Homo sapiens: one gene and its partner. The protein of the gene in region 1 interacts with the protein of each later gene in a pairwise test. Each region holds a gene or a part of one and is shown in the gene's direction. Other genes may lie near its edges.

Region 1 (8,150 bases):
GACTTGCTCAGAGTAGCTGGATGGTACTCTATGCAGTGGGAGCATCAGTATTAGTATTAGCGTCAGTATTAGTAAGTGTTCAGGCTTGCAATTCCAGCTTCTCTTCCAGCTAATCTTCTTTTACCAGGGGAGGGGCGGGGAGGCATCTTGAGAACATGTTTAAGTGTCTCCAGCTCAAGTTTGAGGTTGAGTTACTCTCAGGAAGATGCCGTAGTCAGCTTGATCTAGAGAGTGTGCTGTTTGCCAGTTTAGCAAGAGATTGCTCTTCCCATCCTTGTCCATCAGACAAGCTTTCCCCATTATAGTGGCCACAGGCCACTTTCTAGAGTGCTGCTGCCACAAAACTTTTCAAGCAAGCAAGGAAGTGTGCTAAAGTTTTAGGTGTGTTTCACTGCTCGCTGCTTAGGGAAATGCAGTACATTTACATTTTGTTCCTAACACAAACAAAAAGCTTGGGAAAGGACCCTCTCTGATACCATCCATAGAGCCAACCAATTCTTGCTTGGGTGAACTCTCAAGTCCTATAGTGGCAATATACAACTAAAATGTTTACATGCTATGAAAGGCAGCCACTGTTAAAACCTATGGCCAAAAATTACCATAAGTAAATCTTACTGTAAATACCTCAGAACTCACATGCAATTATTGACATAGAGGACATCTTTGGCCTTGATTTCATTTCATTCACATATGTGAATCCATTCTACATCTCCAAACATGCATTTCATGGCTTTTTCATAGATACATTTCTAGATGTAGAACTATTGAGTCAAATGACATGCACTTCTCATAGGCTTCGGAAGTCACATATGGCCAAATTGCTCTTCAGTAAGATGGGGACATTCCCACCAGCAATGATAGGAATGCCATTCCTCCAAGCTGTGCCAAACACCTGGGTGTTTGCAAACGGATAACAAATAATGGCATCTCATTTTAAATTCGGTTCTTCAATTATTTGGATGGGGCCACGTACAGTGTCTCATGCCTGTAATCCCAGCACTTTTGAGGTGGGTGGATCACTTGAGCTCAGGAGTTTGAGAGCAGCCTGGGCAACATGGTGAGACCCCATCTCTACAAAAAATACAACAACAACAAAAAAATAGCTGGACATGCTGGTGTGTGCCCATGGTCCCAGCTACTTGGGAGGCTGGGGTGGGAGCATCACTTGAGTCCTAGGGGCAGAGGTTGCAGTGAACCGAGATCACTCCAGCCTGGGTGACAGAACAAGACCCTGTCTCAAAAAAAAAAACAAACCCACAAAATAACCACCCACTCCCCCAAACCCAATTATTAGGATGGATGAAATTTCCCCCAAATACATATTGGCTATATGTATGTGTTATTTTATTTTATCTTATTCTGAGATGGGGTCTCACTCTGTCACCCAGGTTGGAGTGCAGTGGTATGATCAGGGCTCACTGCAGACTCGACCTCTCCAGCTCAAGCAGTCCTCATGTCAGCCTCTCAAGTAGCTGGGACCACAGGTGTGCAACACCACGCCCAGCTAACTTTTTAGTTTTTTGTAGAGACCAGGTCTCCATATGTTGCCTAGGCTGGTCTTGAACTCCTAGCTTCAAGCAGTCTACCTGCCGCAGCCTCCCGAAGTGCTGAGATTGCAGGCATAAGCCACCTTGTCCAGCCTGTTTTTAAAAATAAGTTACCTGATCACATCTTTTGCCCTTTTTTTTTCTTTTTGGATATTTATTTTCATCTTATAAATTTATAAAAGCTCAAGGAGTGTAAATTAGTTCAACCATTGTGGAAGACAGTGTGGCAATTCCTCAAGGATCTAGAACTAGAAATACCATTTGACCCAGCAATCCCATTACTGGGTATGTACCCAAAGGATTATAAATCATTCTACTGTAAAGACACATGTACACGTATGTTTATTGCGGCACTGTTCACATAGCAAAGACTTGGAACCAACCCAAATGTCCATCAATGATAGACTGGATAGAGAAAACGTGGCACATATACACCATGGAATACTATGCAGCCATAAAAAAGGATGAGTTCATGTCCTTTGCAGGGACATAGATGAAGCTGGAAACCCTCATTCTCACCAAACTAACGCAAAAATGGAAAACCAAACACTGCATGTTCTTACTTATAAGTGGGAGTTGAACAATGAGAACACATGGACACAGGGAGGGGAATATCACACACTGGGGCCTGTCGTGGGGTTGGGGGAGGGGAGAAGGATAGCATTAGGAGAAATACCTAATGTAGACGACGGGTTGATGGGTGCAGCAAACTACCGTGGCATGTGTATAACTATGTAACAAACCTGTACGTTTTACACATGTACCTCAGAACTTAAAGTATAAAAAAAAAGCTCATAATTTGTCATGACTACTCACTCTTTTTTCTTTCTATCATGTTGTTATAGATTTTCCCCCAGTTTATAGTTTGCTATGAAAGTTTTAAGTTTATATTTAAAGAGGCATATTCAAATCTATGCCTCTTTTCCTTTATTTTGCCTGTATTTGGTATCTTCTTGGCAATAACTTCTTCACTCTAAGATTATATAAACTTTCACTTACTTTTTTCGGGTACATCTTTAATTTCAATTTTTACATTCAAATCTGTGAGTCATCTGGATTTTCCAGTTTGGGATAAGAAAGGATTAATTTTATTTTTATTCCAAATGGTTAATTAGTTGTTCCAGCAATATTTTTTGAATAACCCATCCTTTCTTCACCAAGATAAAATGCCACTTGTTTTCATATACAATTTTATTCTATTTATGTTTACTATTTTGTTCTATTGATTTGTCTGTTAGGGTTTTTGTCAGTACTGTCTTGATTATTTGAACATTAGACTACATTTTATAAATTATACTCCATGGCTATGTAACCCTGAACAAGTTATTTGACATTTCTGGAGCTTAATTTCTTTATCTGTAAATTTATCTCTATTTTATTTATAATTATGGCCTTGTTTCATTTCTATTATTATTATTATTTTTGTTTTTTTTTTGGGATGGAGTCTCACTCTGTTGCTCAGGCTGTAGTGCAGTGTGGCATGATCTCAGGTCACTGTAACCCCCGCCTCCTGGGATCAAGCGATTCTCCTGCCTCAGCCTCCTGAGTAACGGGGATTACAGGCGTGCACCACCATGCCCGGCTGATTTTTGTATTTTTGGTAGAGACGGAGTTTCACCATGTTGGGCCAGGCAGTCTTGAACTCCTGACCTCAGGTGATCCACCTGCCTTGGCCTCCCAAAGTGCTGGGATTACAGTCCAGGCTCTAATATTATTTATTTGTGTTTAAAATTTTTTCTTGAACCTTGTTTATCTGCATTATCAGCTTTTGCATGAAGCCATAGTTCTGATAATCTTTATTTCATTCATTTCTGCTTTTATGATTTTATTCCTTAAAATCTTTTCGGGGGGAGAGGGGTTACTCTTTTTTTTTTCTTATTTCTTAAATTGACAACTTGGCTCATTCATTTTGGAATTTTTGATTTTGAACACTATAATCCATCAATTCTTGGATAGACAGTTTGCATCTTTGAAGTAGGGACTGGATGTTACCAGGTCTGTGGGCCCAGCAGCAGGTAGGATGTAGTTGTAATAATTTTTGCTGTATGAGCACTGAAGCATGTAGAACGTGTGTTCATAGCTTGGAAAAAACTCCAGAGACAGTAGAGAAGCACTTTTGCGCGGTGGCTCACGCCTGTAATACCAGCACTTTGGGAGGCCAAGGCAGGCAGATCATGAGGTCAGGAGTTCGAGACCAGCCTGGCTAAGAGACCAGCCTGGCCAATATGTTGAAACCTCATCTCTACTAAAAATACAAAAATTGGTCCTGGCGCCACTGCGCCTGTAATCCCAGCACTTTGGGAGGCTGAGATGGGTGGGTGACCTGAGGTGTGGCGTTTGAGACCAGCTTGGCCAACATGGTGAAACCCCGTCTCTACTAAAAATACAAAAATTAGCCAGGCATGATGGTGGGCACCTGTAATCCCAGCTACTCGGGAGGCTGAGACAGGAGAATCGCTTGAACCCAAGAGGCGGAGGTTGCAGTGAGCTGAGATTGCACTACTGCACTCCAGCCGGGGGGACAGAGCGAGACTCTGTCTCCAAGAAATGAATAAATAAATAAGCTGGGTGTGGTGGCATGCACCTGTAATCCCAGCTACTCGGGAGGCTGAGGCAGGAGAATTGCTTGAACCCTGGAGTTGGAGGTTGCAGTGAGCCGAGATTATGCCATTGCACTCCAGCCTGGGCGACTCTGGCTCAAAAAAAAAAAAAAAAAAAAAAAAGAAAGAAATGCTGCATCACTCAACTCACATTTTTATTGAAATATTAGGTCAGTATTAGGTGGAAAGTGTGGACAATAGTGATTGAGTTGAAAGTGGTTTAGTAGTCAGATTTCTGAATGTGCATAAGATTTAGGAATGCCTTAACCAGTCTATTGTGCTTATATTTTCCTTCTTTATATATGTGCATGAGTGATATGTGATTAAAATCTATAAATAAATTAAAAGAATGCATCAATAAGTATAAAATAAAAATTCTAAGTGATAAAAGCATGTATCATACTTTAATTGGCAGCCTTTGTTCTTTGTGATACATAAAATAACGATGCTATTACAATTGATGGTGCCTTATATTCAGTGAAATACAGCATATGCATTCAAGGCCCCAGATTTCTAATTACTGCTTTAGTTGAATCCCACAAGTTTTGATATATAGTACTCAATGTTCATTGATCATTAAGCAACTCATGATTTCCATTACAATTTCTTCTTGTATGTGAATTATTTAGAAGTGTGGTTTGAGTTTCCAAGCTTATGGATACTTTTTGGCTGTCTTTTTATTATTGATTTCTAATTGTATTGCATTGTGGTCAGAGAGTGTGGTCTATGTATTGTTGATACTTGTTTTGTGGCTTGGTATATGGGTGGTTCTTCCTTTGGTTACTGGGGACCCGTCTCCTCATCCTCACCTGCTGCTTGCCTGCCACCTCCCCTGGGCTTGACTCCATCCCAGTTACACCTCAAGCAACCAGTTGGACCTCACTGTGCTGGGGGCTGCTCTAGGCTCTAGGGCATATTCCAGAGCAGCACTTCCCACACTTGGCTGACCCTAAGAATCACCTGAGGTGCTTCTTAAATATCCTGGCTCCCAGACTGTAGGTCTGAGTCAGAGCCCTGGGGCCTGCATATTGAACAAGTACCCCAAGGGGATTCTCGTGACTGGGCAAATTCAGGAAGTTCTGTGCAGTTGGGAATCTGGAAGTGGAACTGGATAAAATACAGTGCAGTGATGGAACTAGACTTCAAGAAGGAGATTACTGCCAAACGTGAGCCTAAATGAAGAGCAGGGGTGAGGGTGGGGGCTTATTTAAAATGCAGGTTCCCAGGCCTCACTTGGAGAGATTCTAATTCAATAGGTCTGCGATGGAATTTGAGAATCTGTATTTTTAACAGGCTTCCTGGGTAATTCTGATGCAGATAGGCCTTGCGCCATGTCCTGAGAAGCCCCAGAGTGGGAGGATTTTGAAGGGAGGGAGTAGCTCAGCTGAACTTTAAGCTTTGTAGAGTAACAGGCAAAGTCCTCTTAGGAGTGAAAGGTTTGGTGATAGATCGGGACTTGATAAGAATGGAAAAGGTATTATTCACTTGTGATATGAATTTGAGAGGAAATGAATAAAAAATTCTCTGAGTAGCAGTCCTGCTGATAGATGGTGGGAATTTGCATAGTTTACACTATACAGTCATATCAACGGGTTCTGCATTGGCAGATTCGACCAACTGCCCATAGTAAATATTCAAAAAGGAAACAACAAGTCTGGGTGTCGTGGCTTACACCTGTAATCCCAACACTTTAGGAGGCTGAGGCAGGTGGATTGCTTGAGGCCAGGAGTTTGAGACCAGCCTGGCCAACATGGTGAAACCTTGTCTCTACTAAAAATACAAAAATTAGCCAGGCATGGTGGCGAGTGCCTGTAATACCAGCTACTCATGAGGCTGAGGCAGGAGAATCACCTGAACCCAGAGGCGGAGGTGGCAGTGAGCTGAGATCACACCACTGAACTCCAGCCTGGGTGACAGAGTGAGACTCTGTGTCAAAAAAAAAAAAAAAAAAAAAAGAAAAAAGAAAAGAAAACAACAATATAACAACAAAAATAATACAAATAAGTATATAACAACTATTTACATAGCATTTGCATTGTATTAGGTATTACAAGTAATCTAGAGATGATTTACAGTACAGCATACAGGAGGATGTGCATATGTTATATTCGAATACTACACTGTTTCATATAAACGATTTGAGCATCTTTGGATTTTTGTAATTTTTGTATTGCGGGGGTCCTGGAACCAATCCCCCGTCGATACCAAAAGATGACTCTATATGTGTGAAGCATGATACTGTGTAGGTGGAATAGTAGTCAGTCTAAAAATGTACTCAAGAATCAGAGTTTGACTCTTATTTCTTACAATTTTCTCATAACCAGAGGTTACATTGCCATCTATTGAGCTTTAGTGCTCTACGAAATTATGCATAAAGAAATATGCATAATCTTTTCATCGGACTTTTTATTTTTGTGGCTGGATGAGGTACATAACTGTATGAGATGATAACAGAACAAATTGGCTTTCATGAAGTATTAATAGTATAGCAGAGTGAAGATAATGGATATTCTTCTATGTCTGACACTCACTGGTTTTCAGGACTCCCTTACTTGTAACTGTGGGTGGTTGGGGAGTTATAATTCTTTTTCATTTATTCACTCAAACATTTATTGAGCACCTGCTTTGTGCCAGGCACTGTTATGGATTCTACTAAGATGAATAAGAACTGTGAGGGGAACCCACAGAAGTTTCTGAGGGCATTCTTTGGGTTGTGATCAGCATTATATTCATCAGTCTTTTTATAAACAAATCCTTTGGAAAATTATATTGAGATGCTTAATACAATGTACAGTGCTATATAGCTCACTTCAGATCCTAGGTCTTCCACTTAGTTCAGAGTAGGTGAACTATATGTAGGGGCAAGCAGTCTAGTACAGGGCTTAGAATCTCAGGCTTTAGTGTCACAAGAGCTGTAATCAAATATGGGCCTAGATGTTTTCTTTTTTCTTTTTTGTTTTTCTGAGACAGAGTCTCTGTTGCCCAGGCTGGAGTGCAGTCATGTGATCTCGGCTCACTGCAACCTCTGCCTCCTGGGTTCAAGCAAGCCTCCCACCTCAGCCTCCCAAATAGCTGGGATTACAAGAGTGTGCCACCATGACCAGCTAGTTTTTGTTTTTTGTAGAGACGGGGTTTCACCATGTTGGCCAGGTTGGTCTCGAACTCCTGACCTCAAGTCAGGGTGGATCTTATCTGATCCACCCACCTTGGCCTCCCAAAGTGCTGAGATTACAGGCATGAGCCACCACGCCGGGCCTAGATGTTTACTTTTTATGCAATCATAGGCAAGTTTCTTAGCCTTCTCAGCCTCAGTTTTCTCAACCATAAAATGGGGATAATAAGGAATACCTAAGCCTGTGGGTTGTTATAGGGATAAATGGAATAATATGTGTAAAGGTGTTGACATAATCCTCAGTGCACAGTAAATGTTCAATAAATGTTAGCTGTTTTAAAAATTTATTTATAATCTAGGAAACAAAATAGGGTGGAATGTATTTTCAATAATGTAATTAAATGGTGATATCTCTGTGTTACAGGTGCTAATTGCAGTGATTTTCTGGAATCTAAGGGATGTTTTGCCAACACAACACCCTCTGGCAAAAGTGTCAGTTCCTCATCTTCTGTGGAAACAGGCCCAAGTGTCAGTGAGCCTCCTGGCCTCCCCAGAGTGTCTGCTTACGTAGAGTAAGTAAGGGTCTGGTGCAGAGCTGTCACGGTTGGGGAGATTCTGACCAAGAAGCCAATAGTCTGAGAGGTAGCATGGTATGCTTGGCAAGAGCATGGATTCTGGAGCTAGACTGTGTGGGTTCAAATCCCGGTTCTGCCACTTAGTATCTGTGTGAATCTGAGCAAATTACTTCACCTCCCTGGGCTTCAGTGTTCTTATCTGTAAAATGCTGATGATAGCTTATAGGATTGTTGTGAGGATTAATTGAGTTAATAGCTGGAAAGAGCTTAGAAGACTTCCTGGCACACAGCAAGTTCTGTGTAAGTGCTTGCTATT
Region 2 (8,150 bases), on another chromosome or scaffold:
TGAGGCCAGGAGTTTGAGACCAGCCTGGCCAACATGGTGAAACCCCGTCTCTGCTAAAAATACAAAAATTAACCACGTATGGTGATAGGTGCCTGTAATCCCAGCTACTTGGGAGGCTGAGGCAGGAGAATCGCTTGAACCCAACAGGCAACGGCGGCAGTGAACTGGGATTGCACCACTGCACTCCAGCCTGGGTGACAGGGCAAGACTCCATCTCAAAAAAAAAGAAATACTATTTAGAAATGAAAAATGAGTTAGTTCATTGTATCCTAATGAAAAGTTGATCAAGATATATTTCATTGACTTTAAGATACTATTGATTTTATGTATCAATGAGAAAGAAAAACCATCCAGTTAAACTATGCCATACCATTAATTAAAAGATATATCTGTAGATCAAAGGGCATTTTTTAAAAAGTATGTCTTAGAATTTGATGAAAATATTAAAACGTATGTATCCACTTTTTTAAAAGTATATTTTTAGTATAGGCTGAAAACAAAGCTGAGAGAATATCTGTCTTATTTACCATAATATTTCTATGTTCAATGTTTTGCACATAGTAGATACTTAACAGATAGATATTCATGAATTTTTAAATTAAGCATTTCTAGAATGGCCCCTTTTTTTAAACAGCTAGCACATGTTTGTATTCAGAAAAAGTTGAAAATAAATAAATGTAAATCGATACTTGTATTTATCATCAAAGAGTAACTCATTTTCTCAGGGCAGATTTGAAAATTTACCTTGTTATAATTGTAATGTCATTTTTTAGTCATCCCATTGTGTCATTTTACAGTTATCCTTAAATACCACCTCAAAACCTGAAGTAGCATGTTTTACTTCATAGCTACTTTGCAATGTCCATAAATCTGCATAGATAGTACATACCATTTCTTTATGGTATGGTATGTGGTATATGATATGGACTGCCTGGATTTGTATCTCAGCCCAACTACTTTTAGATATATAATTTTGGAAAAATTACCAATTTTGGTTCCCCCCCCCCCTTTTTTTTTTTTGAGACAGAGTCTCGCTCTGTCGCCCAGGCAGGAGTGCAGTGGTGTGATCTCAGCTCACTGCAAGCTCCGCCTCCCAGGTTCACGCCCTTCTTCTGCCTCAGCCTCCCGAGTAGCTGGGACTACAGGCGCCCACCACCACGCCTGGCTAATTTTTTATATATTTAGTAGAGACGGGGTTTCACCGTGTTAGCCAGGATGGTCTCGATCTCCTGACCTCATGATCCACCTGCCTTGGCCTCCCAAAGTGCTAGGATTACAGGCATGAGCCACCGCATCCAGCTGATTTTCCCTTATTTATAAAATACGAACAGTAATAGCATCTACCACATAAGAATTAAGCAAAATTGGCTGGGCATGGTGGCTCATGCCTGTAATCCCAGCACTTTGGGAGGGCGAGGCAGGCAGAGCATTTGAGGTCAGGAATTTGAGACCAGCCTGGCCAACATGGTGAAACCCTGGTCAGGAGTTTGAGACCAGCCTGGCCAACATGGGGAAACCCTGTCTCTACTAAAAAGACAAAAAATTTGGTCAGGCATGGTGGTGCACACCTGTAATCCCAAGTACTTGGGAAGGTGAGGCAGGAGAATATCTTGAACCTGGGAAGCGGAGGTTGCAGTGAGCTGAGATTGTGCCACTGCATTCCAGCCTGGGTGACAGAGTCAGACCCTGTCTCAAAAAAAAAAAAAAAAAAAGAATTAAACAAAATTATACTTGATATATATGACTATATGTAGTTTTTATTTTGATGGTACTGATCCTAAACTAACTCCTTATTGTTGCCCAATTCCTAAACATTTTGAAGTTTAGAAATGAGGGGGAAAGAAATACACACACACTTTATATATATATATATATATATATATGTATATATATGTATATATATAGTATATGTATGTTTTTTATATATATATACTTTATATATTTATATGCTTGGAATTGATGAGAGAATGTTTTTTGTCTGTTGTTTGTTTTTAGTATCCACAGTAAACAAGCAAAATGTCTGTGCAACATCTTTTTTGTTGTTATTTTCAAGTATTCTATGACCTTATCCCTGTTTTCTGTTTCAGGTCAAAACTTCACAGCTCATGATAAGCAACCTTCAGTGCTAAGTAAGTAGTTGGTTGTCTGCTCTTTTTTCAGCCAATCAATTCTTTTCTCTTTTTTTTTTTTTTTTTTTTTGAGACGATGTCTTGCTCTGTCGCCCAGGCTGGAGTGCAATCTGGGCTCATTGCAAGCTCCACCTCCTGGGTTCACGCGATTCTCCTGCCTCCGCCTCCCAAGTAGCTGGGACTACAGGCGCCCGCCACCACGCCCGGCTAATTTTTTGTATTTTTAGTAGAGACGGTGTTTCACTGTGTTAGCCAGGATGGTCTTGATCTCCTGACCTCATGATCCACCTGCCTCGGCCTCCCAAAGTGCTGGAATTACAGGTGTGAGCCACCGCACCCAGCCTCAGTCAATCAATTCTAACCTTGCCTTATTCTCCCAACAAAAGTTGTAATAAGATTTTAAGTCATTTTACCCCTCTTTACCTTTTTAATTCACCACGGATTGGTACTACCTATAATAATTACTCTGTGATATGGAAATGTGTTCAGGGCTATTTTACCACAAGTAATTTGTATTATGTGATAATATATTTATTTGCTACCTGCTTTGCTGTAGGAAGTGGTTCATCCTCACTGATACGATCCTTTGAAATTATCTTTTACTTATAAAACTATTGCTTTTATTGTTTTCTTCCCCTACTTTATTTTGTCTTTCTGATAGATTAATTTTATAACACTGGAATATGGTATAAACTTTCAAAGTATGGGAAATTATCTTTTGATATATGTATTTGCTTCAGGCTCAGGATATCAAAAAACTCCCCAGGAATGGGCCCCACAAACTGCAAGAATAAGGACCAGGATGCAAAGTAAGTAGATAAATCTCTGTTATTGAAATAATCTTGTGTATTTGCTATGTTTTTCTTGACAAAAATATTTAGTTCTTCAGATAAACATTTAGGTTGTTTGTGATTTCACTAATAAAGTACAGCTATGATTACTAGTTTAGTAATTTCTTGGACTGGCAGCACATGGGCTGGGTGTAGAATGTAAATAGTGGCGTGAGAAAACCAGAGATTGGCCAGGTGCGGTGGCTCACGCCTGTAATCCCAGCACTTTGGGAGGCCGAGGTGGGTGGATCACGAGGTCAGGAGATCGAGACCATCCTGGCTAACACGGTGAAACCTCGTCTCTACTAAAAATATTTAAAAAAGAAAAATTAGCTGGGCGTGGCGGCGGGAGGCTACTCGGGAGGCTGAAGCAGGAGAATGGTGTGAACCCAGGAGGCGGAGCTTGCAGTGAGCCAAGATTGCACCACTGCACTCCAGCCTGGGCGACAGAGCGAGACTCCATCTGAAAAAAAGAAAAAAAAAGAGAAAACCAGAGATTGATGGATTTTAACAAGCTGTCAGTTATAGCAGCAATACAGTCTGTATACAATAATGAAATTCTACTCTTTTGACAATACTTATTTTTTGCTTTTAGCAGATTTTGGAACAGCTTTGTATACTCATAATTTTACATAATAAAGGCTGAAATGCACAAGTTATATTTTCATGTTTAGGGTTTTTTTTCTGTTTTTTGTTTTGTTTTGTTTTGTTTTGTTTTGTTTTGTTTTGTTTTTGAGATGGAGTCTTGCTGTGTTGCCCAGGCTGGAGTACAGTGGTGCAACCTCAGTTCACTGCAACCTCTGCCTCCCGGGTTCAAGCAATTCTCCTGCCTCAGCCTCCCAAGTAGCCAGGACTACAGGCGCGTACCACCACACCCAGCTAATTTTTGTATTGTTACACGCCTGGCTAATTTTTATATTTTTAGTAGAGACAGGGTTTCACCATATTGGTCAGGCTGGTCTTGAACTCCTGACCTCATGATCTGCCTGCCTTGGCCTCCCTGAATGCTGGGATTACAGGCTTGAGCCACTGCGCCCAGCCTTTCTGGGTTTTTGGGGGTGTTTTGTTTTGTTTTGGGTTTTTTTTGAGATGAAGTCTCCCTCTGTCGCCCAGGTTGGAGTGCAGTGGCACAATCTCAGCTCACTGCAGCCTCCGCCTCCCACATTCAGGTCATTCTTGTGCCTTAGCCTCCTAAGTAGCTGGGACTTGCATGCATGCGCCACCATGCCCAGCTAATATTTGTACTTTTAGTAGAGACGGGGTTTCGCCATGTTGGCCAGGTTGGTCTTGAACTGCTGACCTCAAGTGATCCGCCTGCTTCAGCCTCCCAAAGTGTTGGGATTACAGGCATGAGCCACCACACCCAGCCTCATGTTTAGGTTTTGGATGGATTAAATGTCACAGAATTTAAGGAATACTATAAATTGATGTGATAAAACCATCGTACTTTGAACTCACTTTCTATAATTTCTATGGAAATGCGTCCACGTTAAATCTCGACCATATTTTTTTAAAGTCCATGCATATTCTCTGCCTTAAGTGACCTTTAACCTCCCTACTTTACTCATCTAACCACAATAGGTCTTGAGGTCATCAGGTATTCTCTTACTTTTATTTAGGTAATGTAAAAATCCACATCTTATATCTCTTGCTCATGGGATGATTAACTGTAATTGGACCAAATGACATGCGTGGCTCTGCTTTTCCATCAGTAAAGTAGGAGTGGTCATAATTCATTTTTTCTCAGCAGTGACGTTTTTAGCCCACATGTAAGTGAGTTCTTAAGCAGTCTAGAACCGAAATAACTTTTTGCCCTTGTCTTACTGTTGGTTGTCATTTCTTATTGCTGTGATTATGTGCCTGCTATTAGAAAACCATTTCCTCTTATAATTTGCTCTTCCTGACCTATTATAGTTAGGAAACCAAACATTAATTATTCAGCTTATTAGAATTATGTTTATAACCAGGATCAAACATTAAAATTAAATTTGAAGACCCAAGAGATACTCTTGGATGTAAAAATGCATGAGTTTTAGTGTATATAATGTGAAAAGCTCAGAGGCATCTTGTGTCATTTCTTAGTTCTTAACTGTACATTCTGAGTAATTAATATCAGATAAATGACTTCCAGATAAGTGAAGTTAGTACATACTTATCAGAAAATCTTTGCATAATTTTTTCCTCTAATAAGACACTGCAATAGAGAAGGAAACATAATTATATTGAACATCTAATAGAAATGCAGAAATAGATCTTTTTAGTTGCTAAATTGATAGCTAATTTTTAGTATTTTATCTGTTTGCATTTCTACTTTGTCTTAAGTTACTATGTTTATTATGGCTTACAGAATTATACATTGGTTGCTAACCACCTACCATATATAGATAACCACATTGAGCTTTCAGAGTTATGTAACAGTAACACACCAGAAGTGTGCATGTAATAGGATCTTTTAGACTTTCAACCACATGAGGACTTTAAGATAGAACGATGAGCAAGAAGAAAATATTTTCAATGGAAGTGGAAGACTACAGTGATTTTTCAAACACTGTTATATAATAGATTCCTCTTCAAGAATATTAAAAAAATGTTTTCCTAGCATTCCACATTTTATCTCTCATTCTTTAACTATATATTTCTGCCCGCTTTGGTGAGGAAAAAAAAGTCATTTTTAGAGCTGAGTGTTCAAGAACCTTAGGCTATAGATTCTACCCCATGGAACATTGTCACCCGACGTTAGCAACAGTTTCCTGTAGACAGGTCCCAGTTCAGGCTTCTGCCTGCATCCAAACCTTTTAGGAAAGATGGAACCACTGTCTTTACTTTTTCCTGTTTGCCAGGTGATAAAACAATGATTATAGAGAAGAATATATGTGCATGGAGAGGTCAGAGAACTAATATAAATGTTTTGGAACCTGTCTCAGAAATTTAGATAGAGAAAAGAAGACAATTTGGAGTTAAAGCTCTTGAGCTCCAGTCCTAGCTCTTCCACTTACTAATTGAGTAATCTTGGTAAAATCACTTAACCTTTGTGAACCTCAATTTTCTTGCCTTTAGAGACAGTAGTGCCTATAACTAGATTATTGTAATGAGCTTATATGTGTAAACACAATTTTTTAAAGTCTAAAATCTCATAATTATCAGGGCTTATTTATTGTTAATGTTTTCTGTAGAATCAATAGCAACTATGGAGGATTTGTGCCCTCTACTCTTGATGGTTGTAGAGTGATTGATTATCACCATACTCTTTAGACTAGAAAAGCTTGAGTTTTTTCTTTTTCTTTTTTTCTTTTTTTTTTTCTTTTTTCTTTTTTTTCTTTTTTTTTTCTTTTTTCTTTTTTCTTTTTTTTGAAACGGTCTTGCTCTGTTGCCTAGGCTGGAGTGCAGTGGCGTGATCTCAGCTCACTGCAACCTCTGCCTCCTGGGTTCAAGCGATTCTCATTCATGCCTCAGCTTCCCAAGTAGCTGGTGGTGCACCAATACACCCAGCTAATTTTTGTATTTTAGTAGAGACAGGGTTTCACCATGTTGGCCAGGCTGGTCTCAAACTCCTGACCTCAGGTGATCCACCCACCTCGACCTCCCAAAGTGTTGGGATTACAGGCTTGAGCCACTGCGCCCAGCTGAGTTTTTTCTTTTAAAAAGATGTTTTTTAGAATTGTTGTTAGCATCTCTAGTAATGTTGATAAAAAGGATAGCAGTTATACTTTGGACAATGTCCTGCCTTGGCAGTATATACCCTGCTGTGTATGTGTTTGTGTTATATGAATTATATAAATATTATATATGGTACATAATTATTATTTAGCTGTCCTTCATCATTAACATCATAGAATTGCACTTCACAGCATTTTTGTATATATTATCTCATTTGATCTTTGCAACCATGGAGTGAAGTATTCAAAATAAACATTATCTGATGGATTTGGGTTTCATGTGGTTAGGTATTTTTATTGTTATTTTAGTTGTAACTTCGATAACCTAACTTAGAAGCTTCTAAATAATGAAATATCCTAAGCTAAACTAGTAATTGAAAAACAGTATTCCTCTTACAGTTGCTGTCATTTTGTCTTACTACATCATTATGGAGTTTTTTGTCATATGATCAAAAATAAGGCTATTTCTGAATCTTAGCAGGGCTAATATTATTCCTCCAGTTATTCCAGTGTTTCTCAAATGAAAGTTGTTGATATAACGCTAAGAAGATCCACCAGGAAGTTCATTTATATATACAAAAGTTATAAAACTCCAGGCAAGTGATAGACGGCAATACTGGTAATATAGGTCATACAAATGAGATAACTCAGCCTCTCCACCTTCTGAAGCCTGTCCTTCCATTTCCTCTCTTAGATTTTAAAACCTGCTGGTATGCTAAGAAAGATGGAAGGGAAAGGGAAGGGTTAGGATCATTTTTAATTTCTTTTCTTGTTTTTAATTTTTTTTTTTTTTTTTAGAGATGGGGTCTCACAATGTTGCCCAGGCTGGCCTTAAACTCCTGTGCTCAAGCTGTCCTGTCACCTCAGCCTCTTGATTTGTCGGAATTACAGGCATGAACCACTGTGCCCGGCTTAATTTATTTTCTAAATAGATTTAGATGAAAGTAGAAATTTGACAGAGTTGAGAGAAAATTATTTTTGAGCTCTATTGTTTAACCACAAGCCTAAAACAGAATTACTTTATTACTTGTCTATTAACAGAAATGATGAGAAGTTTTTAAATGTGATTTTAAAATACTACTAGTATTTGAAATGGTCAGAATCCCCAGAGGAAATACTGAATCAGTTTGAGGTAGAAAATAGTGAGGATTAAGATTTTTATATTAAAACACCTTATCCAGACAGCTCAGTAGTCTGTAATCCACATTTTGTCCTTATTTTCCCCCTCTTTACAGCATCTTCACCAGGCAAGAGTTCAATATATGGCAGTTTTTCAGATGGTATAATATGTTTCATTTTATTATGGTGTGCTTAGTTTCTTTGTCCTTTTTATCCCGGAAGTTTCACCAATCCCATTAGATACTTAATGGGTCAAATACTTCCAAACTTTCTCTCAAAACTAATTATTGTGTGCTTTGTACTAGACCCCACCATATGCTGTGAAAAGCTATGAAAGAAATAGGTCATGTGTTTCAAGGAGCTCTCAGTCTAATCGGCACTCAGATATTCTACTTTTTCTTCTGCTTCTGGCTGAT

What was found. Proteins that work in one complex are often made in the same cells at the same time.
Region 2: the proteins of SPATS1 (region 1) and TOR1AIP1 interact in binary tests that used the Homo sapiens proteins (3 or more experiments, as listed by UniProt).

What each region holds. Positions count from the first base shown.
Region 1 is NC_000006.12:44,345,043-44,353,192, forward strand, and holds part of SPATS1 (spermatogenesis-associated serine-rich protein 1), read left to right. Parts: intron 1-7,683; coding exon 7,684-7,831; intron 7,832-8,150.
Region 2 is NC_000001.11:179,905,736-179,913,885, forward strand, and holds part of TOR1AIP1 (torsin-1A-interacting protein 1), read left to right. Parts: intron 1-2,087; coding exon 2,088-2,129; intron 2,130-2,869; coding exon 2,870-2,938; intron 2,939-8,150. UniProt on the Homo sapiens protein: Required for nuclear membrane integrity. Induces TOR1A and TOR1B ATPase activity and is required for their location on the nuclear membrane. Binds to A- and B-type lamins. Possible role in membrane attachment and assembly of the nuclear lamina.